Linked DNA regions of Homo sapiens. The protein of the gene in region 3 purifies or fractionates together with the protein of the main gene of each other region. This does not show direct contact. Each region holds a gene or a part of one and is shown on either strand. Other genes may lie near its edges.

Evidence for each region.
Region 1: the proteins of ULK4 (region 3) and ERC1 purify together in Homo sapiens (affinity purification with mass spectrometry; one large-scale study listed by BioGRID and IntAct). This does not show direct contact.
Region 2: the proteins of ULK4 (region 3) and MTR purify together in Homo sapiens (affinity purification with mass spectrometry; one large-scale study listed by BioGRID and IntAct). This does not show direct contact.

The regions. Positions count from the first base shown.
Region 1 is NC_000012.12:1,493,784-1,496,545, reverse strand, and holds the end of ERC1 (ELKS/Rab6-interacting/CAST family member 1), read right to left. Parts: 3' UTR 615-2,762; downstream 1-614. UniProt on the Homo sapiens protein: Regulatory subunit of the IKK complex. Probably recruits IkappaBalpha/NFKBIA to the complex. May be involved in the organization of the cytomatrix at the nerve terminals active zone (CAZ) which regulates neurotransmitter release.
Region 2 is NC_000001.11:236,850,635-236,854,291, reverse strand, and holds part of MTR (methionine synthase), read right to left. Parts: intron 1,772-3,657; coding exon 1,655-1,771; intron 1,345-1,654; coding exon 1,204-1,344; intron 1-1,203. UniProt on the Homo sapiens protein: Catalyzes the transfer of a methyl group from methylcob(III)alamin (MeCbl) to homocysteine, yielding enzyme-bound cob(I)alamin and methionine in the cytosol. MeCbl is an active form of cobalamin (vitamin B12) used as a cofactor for methionine biosynthesis.
Region 3 is NC_000003.12:41,248,955-41,252,113, forward strand, and holds part of ULK4 (serine/threonine-protein kinase ULK4), read right to left. Parts: intron 621-3,159; coding exon 535-620; intron 1-534. UniProt on the Homo sapiens protein: May be involved in the remodeling of cytoskeletal components, such as alpha-tubulin, and in this way regulates neurite branching and elongation, as well as cell motility.

The DNA.
Region 1 (2,762 bases), on a different chromosome or scaffold from region 3:
TAATTCTCATAAAAGAAATCCTCCAGAATAATTTCTTATTGAGCATAAAGCCCAAGACAAATCCCAAAGCTGGAAATGACAGCCGCGTCCAAGCACAGGGTTTCTCGGCTCCTTTTACTCTTGGCACACACACTTTCTGTTGACCCAGCCTGCACGCCCCAGAGTCAGTGCATCAGAACGCGCCCTGCTGAAGCTTGAGTCCCAGTCCTGGGCAAAGCCCTCCCTTGGTGGCCGCCCTTCTGGCTCTTCTACCTTGGTACAACAGCAGCACCATCCCTCAGCGCTGGGCACCTACTCTAAGCTCTGGAACAGTGAGACCTGATACGGATAACCTGGCCCGGGGCTGAGGGTAGAAAGAAGGAAAAAGGGAACCGGGAATTGACTTTAAAAGCTGCAAACCCGGAGATCAGGCGGGAAGGGAAAGGAGGCTCATGCCCGTCAGGGCTGTGATGACTCCCACACCCACCGTAAATCCTGGGACCCCTGGCCCTCGGGCTGCCTGCCATTGGAGTTGGCCTCTTGGGCACTGCAGACCTTGTCCATCTTTTCTAGCATTTGGGGACACACCTTGCCTGGATGATCAGCTGGGTGACACTCAAAGAAGGACACAGCACGGTTTTTAAATAACTTTATAATTTCCTGGTGGATTTAGTTTGTGAATAAAAAAGAAAAAATGAACAAAGTGTTTACAATAATTATCAAGGCAAAGTTGAATATAACACAATTTCTTTGTAATGTCATTATCCTGTCAGTAACACAACTCCAGCAGGAACACACACATACAGCTGAAGGCAGCGGGTGCACGTGCATCCCAGACACCACCATGGAGGCTGCTACTGTTACCAAAAGGAACTCAAGCTACAAGGGGGCAGGTGCTCCTCAGCTCCTCCACTAAAGTGCAACACTTCTCTTCTGACGCATCAGGGAGCAGTCACAGGCCCCACTGGATATCCTGCAATGCCCGGCAGGTGCCTGGGCTAGTCCTGCGATGGGCCAGCAGGCCAGAGTGGGTGGTGCTGCCCTCAGGATGTGTAGCTGCAGTAGATGGATGCAATACTGGCGTGGTGTGGAATGAGGGGCTGGACCCAGAGGGCCTGCTTTGGCCGGGGTGAATTCTCTGGCTTCAGTAGGGTTCACTTCCTTTCCTGACAGTGGCTTCTCTGGGGTCAAGAGAGAGCCTGGGCCTAGGAGATCTAGGGTCTAAAAAAGCTCAAAGGGAAATAATTGAGGGCCTGAAGCCAGAAGGAACTGACATGGAGGACAGTCTGTTCCACCTGGATTGCAGGCTCCAGGCTGGCCAGTGCTCACCCGTGCTGGGTGGTCACTGGAAGAGATAGCACCAAGTGGGCAGGAGAGGTCCTGTGGCCTGCCAGGCAGGGGCTTCAGGGTCAAGCCCAGGTTACCATGCAGTATTAGGCACACTGAGCTAGAACCCACGTCGGGTGAGGGTGGTTATGGGGTCACAAACTGTGAAACCTCTACCCAGAGGTCCTGAACATGTATAGGAAAATCCTGGCACAACTGCGAGGCTCTGAGCCCCAGATTCTCGTTCCTTTTGCTCGGCAGGTGTCTCTTGCCCAGGCAGGCACTACCCTAAGTGTGCTCCATGCTTCCTAAGCCGCCAGCCCAGGGCCACCTATGCCAGCCTGGGAGGAGGGGAGTGTGGCTGCCCCATAGCTTGAATTCCTTTATTAACAAGATATTGGTTTGCATTTTTAAAACACAGCTGTTTAATTTTTCATTTCTACAACTACGTTTTAATCTTTTAATAATCTCAACAACAGACACAATGTAACTGCCCCAATTCTCTGAATCACACAGACAATATCGACAAGCAGAGAAAGAAGAGAGGAGGTGGGATGGGACAAAAACCCGCTCCCCCAAATCAATCCCTAAAACCACTTCTCCCCCAAGAGTCAGGAGAAGTACCTACAACAGGGCCACAGCACTTGCCAAACACATTGGAAAAAATCAGGAGACAGTTGGTTACATTTTTGACACTAAAAAGTCTGGAGACGGTTTTTGCTGAAGAGTAGGTGAAGATAGCCATTTTGTTCAGAAGGATTTCCCTGTAATGTATGTCTTTTCTTGCAAGAAGAGTAGGTGAAGACAGCCATTTTGTTCAGAAGGATTTCCCTGTAATGTATGTCTTTTCTTGCCTAATTCTTCCCTAATTTGCATGGGGGAAACTCCAGATCCTCTTTAAGACATTCCTTTGAGTGGTTCACGTCCCCTCCTGAGCAGCCCAGGGCTGGCAGTGATGGACGGGCGGCCTCACTCTGCAGAGGGTGCCTGCTGCATTGCAGTCTCTTCTCATCCTTCCTCCTCAGTTCCGAACCCAGGCAGGTGAAGAGGAGGCCAGGAGCAGATGTTAAATTACTGGTATTTGCTGACACAGGGTCCGCTGGGCTTGAGAAATGCCATGTGGTGTCACACTCCACGCAGCGGTCTTCTCTGCTTGGCTCTTTCCTCAAAGACTCTGAGGGTCTTGACACCGGGCCTACACTCAAGTAACATGGTCAACAGGAGGGCGGGATGGTTCTGGGAGGAACAGGACTCTGGCAGCAAATCCAAATGCCAGTGGATGGGCGGCTCAGAAACATTTATATTTTGGGGTGACACATGATGGTTGCCTCACAACCCTGACCCTCAATAGCGGAGGGATTAGTTCAGCAGGTGGCTAAGACCGTGTCTGTGATGACTTCGCCTTCCTCTTCTCTCACTCTGGGGGTGGGTGAGCCCGCAAGTTCCTCATGGAAAAC
Region 2 (3,657 bases), on a different chromosome or scaffold from region 3:
GTGTGAGCGTTGGCACAGTGTCTGAACTCCTTTCAGCTTTGTTGAGCCTAAGGCTTCCATAAGCAATTTCAGAAATCTAAGTCTTACTACCAGTAAGGCTGATAAAACAAGGATGTGGTTAATCTCATAGTGTCCTATCCTTCTTCCAGAGCATTTTATTACTCTTCTGTGGAAGAGGCAAAGTTGGCAGTTCTATCAGAGCTAAATTCAGATTCTAACATGGAAAACATTAACAAAGTTGGCAAGAGACACAAAAGCATCCTACCACTTTCTCAACATGCTTTGTGGGAAAAATATCTTCCTTTGCCATCATTCTCTTAAACAGATTAAAATGCAAGTTCTTTTGAGGTAAAGATCTCAACTTTCCTTAAACTGAATTCTAAGAAGAACCATCTACGATAGATACTTCATGTGCCTAGGACTGCGCCCAACATATAAATGAGAAACAAGCTGGTGTTTGAATTAGCTATAATTATACTCATTTTTTACACATCAAATGTGCACAGACCTAAGCCTTGAACTGCAGAACTTTGCCACAGATGGACCAGATCCTAACATAAACAGGTATACAAACCAAAACATGGAACAGTGGGGACCATGTAACACTAACATAGCCACACAAGAAAATCCAGAACAGCTATTTTAAATAATGAGGTAGAAAAATATCAAGTAAAATGGAAATATGTTCCCAGTACACTGCTAAGAAAAAAATATTACCATAAAAGCATCTAGAGTATAGTTCTATTTTTGTAAAAAATGTATGTATATGTACCTATGCATGCATATTCATTTTGCAAAAAGAAATAAAAACTCCCATCACTTAAAGGTTATAACAAAATCTCAAGTGTTTAACTTTGGGTGGTAGGATTACAAGTGATTTTTATTTTCTTCCTTTGCTTACCAGAATTTTGTAAATTTTCTAGAACTAATATGTTACTTGGTACAAGAAAAATTAATTTTACATTTTACAATAAATTTAAAGAAACCTAAGTTCAGAATACGGAAGCACCCTAGGCATGGTCTGTTTACCCTTCCTTGCCCTAGCTACACCACCATCTCTGCAACTCTCTGTAGAAATCTTCAGTGATCCAAATATATGATTCGATATTTGCTTCTATTCCACCATGAAGGTCTACTAACTGTAGGTGAGTAATACATTCAAAGATAGGAAAAATCCATCTATTAGAACACTTGTCTCTCTACCTGGGCATAACGTAAGAGCTTCTCAGTGGCCTCAGGGTCTTTATTCCAGATGAGATCTTCACAGAGCTGCAGAAGTTCCTTATGGATATCATCATACACAGGGAGGTTTCCAGCATTCACTATCCCCATGTCCATGCCAGACTAAGGGCAATACAAATAAAAATGAGAATTTACAGTGATACCTTAAGTCAGCGATCAGCAAACTTTTCTCTGTAAAGGGCCAGAGAGAAATATTTTAGGCCATAGCCTCTGTCACAGCTACTCAACTTTGTAGTTACAGCATAAAAGCAGCCACAGACAAGATACAAATGAATAGGTGTGGCTCTATCCCAATAAAATCTTATTTACAGAAACTGGCAGCAGGCCGGACTTAGCCTGCATGCCACACTTTGAAAACCCCTGCCCCAACTAAAAACTGGTTTCCGCAGGGCTAAGAGTTCTTCTACCATACCTTGATTGCATGGTAAAGGAAAACCCCATGCATTGCTTCTCGAATGGCTTCCATTCCTCGGAAGGAGAAGGACAAGTTGGAAAGACCTCCACTTATTCTGGCTCCAGGTAATGTTTCCTGGCAAAAATTTTAAAATATGAAAAGATTCCCCTTTTTTGCCAAAAACAGCAATCACATCTCTTAAGCTTTATATAGGAGTGGAAAGAAAAAAAAACAAAAAGCATCCGAAGTTCAAAGTAATTCAGAGCTTCTTGTTACTAGACATAGACCAAAGCTTGCCGTATTACAGTATTACAAAGGCGCTGCTTCGTAAGTAGTTTTTCCTACTAGACTCCAATCTCCCTAAGGAGAACACGCGCGTACACACACACACACACACACGCAGAAAGACAAAGAGGAATTCCTTATTCACTGAAAGTACAAATTACTAGAAGGCTTCCATAGCCTAAATGAACAGACTCCCTAGTTCACTATGAACTTGACCGACTATAAAAGGACAAAAGGAAATTGAAGTTCCAACCATACCGATGACAGTATCAAGCATCATCAGGCTTGTGGAATAACAGGAACTTTCACTATTATTGGCTCAAGAATCTAGGGAGACAGTTTGTCATTATCTACTACTATGAGCCAACCACTTCTGGGTCTATGCTACAGAGAAGTTCAGGCATGCATGTCTAAGATACATATATAAGAATACTCAGAGCTGCATTGTTCATAATGTCCAAAAGCTGGAAAAAAACTAGATGTCCATCAACAATAGAACAGTTAATTGTGGTATAGTTATACCATAGAATATTATACATTAATAAAAATGAACAAACAGCTACAGCCACACAGATAAATCTTTAGTATGGAGTAAGAAAAAAACATAAAAATATTACGATTCTATTTTTATTAGGCTCAAAAGCAGGCAAAACCAAACTATATCATTCAGATATTCAGTCAATTCTTACTATTTTGTGGTAGTTATGTTCTTTAAAGTCACTGCAAACACTGAATTAGGGAATACCAGAGCATTGCTCCTAGGAGAAATACAGGGCTAGGTTCCTATGAGCCTCTGATGACATTTTTGTCAACCAATCAATACATAACCTTGTTTTGTGCATGTATGTTAAGATGCTGTATCTAATATTTACTGTTGATTCATTAAGACTGAATTCACAGCCAATGGCACTATAATTCATGTCTGAACAAAGCTTATCTAACACACATATTTCCTCCCTAAGGAACATCACAGCCTTCTTGTGCTTAGAACACTAGACAGCACTAGTATGGGGCCATTTTAAAAAGTGACCTCACCAACAAAACGCATAAAAGTGTGAAAAACATGGCATTAGACTGCAAAAAGGACATCTGTGTACAGGATGAGAGCTGAAATAAGAAGGTAGGTCACTGCCATGTTTGCCCTCTTTGGGAATAATATGGGTTGGGCCACTCAAATTTTCCACCACTCTGCATATGGGTAAGTCTGAACAACTGCAGAAGTGACGTTGAGTATTGATTTTGGGGTCACAAATAAATTTCAGTAAGTACATGAATTTGCAAATATAAAATCCATAGATGATGCAAATCAAATCTACATATATAAGCAATAAATTTATGAAGAAAAGCAACAGAGTAGCGTCATAAAACTCAGGACAATAGCTACTTTATAAAATTGAGAATGAGGTGTAACTGGAAAAGGAGAGACAGACGGGGGCGCTAGCTATGCTCTATTTTGGGACCTAAGTGAAGGCTCTTATATGCTTCATAATTAATTATTTATCAGGTTCTGTGGTTTTTTTGTTTTGCATCATTTTGTTCAAGGCAGGGCCTCACTCTGTCGCCCAGGCTAGAGCGCACTGGCGTGATCCCAGCTCAATGCAACCTCCACCCTCCTGGGTTCAAGCGAGTTCATCAGGCTCTGTTATGTTCTCCAGTCTGTTTGTTACACAAGTTAAAACTCTACTAAAGAAAAAAAATAAGGTCTCCTACATTTCAGAAAAACAATTTACTAACTA
Region 3 (3,159 bases):
TTCCGGGTGTCAAATACGCAGTTCTGTGTGGTCCCTCTGAACTTCTGGCTGAGGAAGGTAACCTGGTGCAGCAGAGCAGGCTAAGCTGTCACATTTGCCCCAGCCCTGCCTGGGCCTTGAGTCCTCCACAAGGTGGTGATGAGGATGCCTCTGGCTGGGCTGCTGATGGGGGCATGTGTGCACAGGCCAGGGGCTGCCTTTCTCATGAGGTTCCTTGCATCTCCCACTTGGTCATCCACTCAACCTCTTCAGGGGCCTCAAGGTGGGAATATTGTTTCCCCTGGCAGGACTAAGACTTTCTCTCCCCCTGTTGATTCCTGTCCCCTCACTTTCCCCACCATAACTGGGGATTCCCAGTGTGTGGAGTGGCAGAGCTTCCCTTCCCACACTGGGAAGGATCTCAGTGGACAGTGATGGGCTGGAAGGTGGTAGTCCCTGGTGTGGAGGGAGATGAGTGGGAGGAGTGGAGAAAGGAATGGCTGAGAGTGTGTGCTGATCTAGAGCAGACTGCTGATCCTCCTGGGTCCCACTTACCCACTCCCAGGGGCCAGCCGCTCCAGAGCCCGCAGGAGGCTGCCTGCATTCTTGAGGCTCTCCAAGTGCTTCTCATTGGAGGTGATCTGCAAGGGCAGGAGGAAGAAGACAGTGGTCAGCTGACCCGTCCCTGACTCATGCCCTGTTGGATGGGCACCCTGAGTATCAGGCCTGCATGGTGCTGTGGCTGCCTAAGGCACTGGGGGGTGTCCCCTGGGCTTGTCTGTAACCCCCATGCGTAACCTCCCCCACAGAGTGTTGCTGACCAAGGGGAAAGAGGCAGGACACTGGTGGTCCTCAGGGGAGGGGACAAGGCAGTCTGCTGGGGCAGAAGACGGCCAGTTCAGGGCAGGGAGCCTCCTGCGGATCTCTCAGGAGAGTTTGTGTCTGGGAACCTGAACTTTCCAATTAAAGCAAAACTACTTTTTCTGTGCTGGGACTCAAGAGGCCTGGCTAGCAACTGGAAATCTGTCTTTGGGGCTCTCAGCCCAACATGATCTCTTTCACGTGGATAGAAGGATGCCAAGAAGGTGCCTGGGGACCTGGGAGAGAGGCATTAATAACTAAACCCCAGGAAGTGTGCCCATGCTAATCGCCACAGTCCTATGAGAAAAACACTTGGGCATGCCTGACTCTGTAGCACCTATTTGCAGAATCATACACTCTCAGGGCTAGAATAGGCTCAGGTGGGGATTTATCTAGACCCACAATTCTAGACCCACCCAGAGACCTCACAATTCAGACCCTCCATAAAATGAGTCCATGTCCTGAAAGGCAGAGAAGAGAAGGCTTTGATTCTACTATTAGACTTGCTTCTCTTAATTCACCGTTGCCTCCTATTGTTATCTTTGTTAGTTTAAAATTTCTTGTAATAAACGCTTGTATGGCACTTTACATTTCAGAATGCTGTTTCCTATATGTTTTCTCATTTAATCTTCTCAACAGCCTACCTTACAAGGTAAGTATATATCATGTTTTATTTATGAGGTAACCAAAGCTGAAATTAAGGGGCTGCTACAGGAGTCCACACGGAGCCAGACTGTCTCCCCACCACGAAGGTGGAACCAGGATGGCTTCAGCTGACTTTGATCACAGCAACCGAGGCTGGATTATTGTCTCCTTAGTTAAGAGGCTCAACATTTTTTAATCAACCACTCATGATAGGTCACAGGGGTAACTAAACATTAACATGAACTCTGAATTATATATGAATGCATTCGCACCTCCACTGAGATCCTCTCCCACCTTCCTGAGTATGCCAGAGAACAGCTGCCAGTTCAACTGCATCAGGTGTGATTTCTGCAAAGATTTGCATCTCGGAAGAGCTGCATGTAAATTTGTTCTGAAATTGCACCCAACTTGATGTGTTCAAAAGACTACTGCTTAAAAATGCCAGCTGTAGTTCAATTATGTCTGAAGTATGCATAAACTTACACTGAAGGTACACTCCCCATCAGGCGTCTTCAGTGAGGATTCCCACTTCATTTTTCTCAGAACTGCCTCAAACAGGTCAGCTGACTACATCCAGGCTCAGTGCCCCGACCAGCCCTGCCATGAGATTGTGTGCAGAGGCTGTGCTCCCAGGAAATCACCCACAAGTTGCAAATAAATCAGAAGATGACTTTCATCCACAAGGCTGGTTAGAAGGTGCAAATAGAAATCTACAGTGACAGTTATGTGATCAAAGGAAGATGCCAAAATGGTATCATGTGTAGCTGACATAAATGTAGACATAAACAACGCCAATTGAAAACTACGTGGTTTGGCCATTTACCTGACTCTTATTCATAACATCAGCTGTTGTTCTGTATATAAGGATGAGTTAATTCAAAAATAAAAATTTTAAATTATATCAATCAGAGGTTCCAGTTCTGCGTAAGACAGAGAAAACACATGACACTCTTTCTCTCCCTCTGGATGCAAATCTACAGCGCAGCTATTTCAGAACACTGAAAAGCAAACAGCAACAGGTAAATAGGAGAGGACACTGAATTCAAAGCACCACTGAACTGGCAGTGAGTTTACCACTTCTTTCTTAGCCTGGATGCAACAAACCCAAACCCCAAAAGCCCTAGAAGAAACCCAGCTTGAGGAATAGAGAAGGGAAATCCCCAAAACCCTAGAGAGTAGATGAAACCCCCTCAAGATTGCTTTGCTCTTTTTTCTCCATCCTCTTGTGTCCCAGGCCATTCTGTGATGGCAGCAGTGGTAGTGGGGACAGAGGTGGCAGCAACAATAGCCAGCAAGAGGAGCCTGCAACCAGATCTCTATTCTTTCTCTGTTCTCCTAGTGTTTGGCCTGGATGTTGCATAATCATGGAACTAGGCAGTTTTAGGCCAGATAAAAAATGGGAAACCCAGAGAACCAGAAAGTACTGGGGAGAGAATGAATCAAGAAGAGCTTAGTAAAGTTACTCCATAAAACTGTTTATGAACTCTTGGCCTCACCCCCAACCTGTGTATGCATGGAACCGATCCCAATAGCATGCCCCAGAATTGAAGAACTGAGGTAACAAATATATCTCTGCTCACATCCCAGACTGACCCCTGGGGAGGGACACACCAGATAGATGCACATAGCACTGCAAAACCTGTGAAACCAATATGACACTGAAATTACAATTCC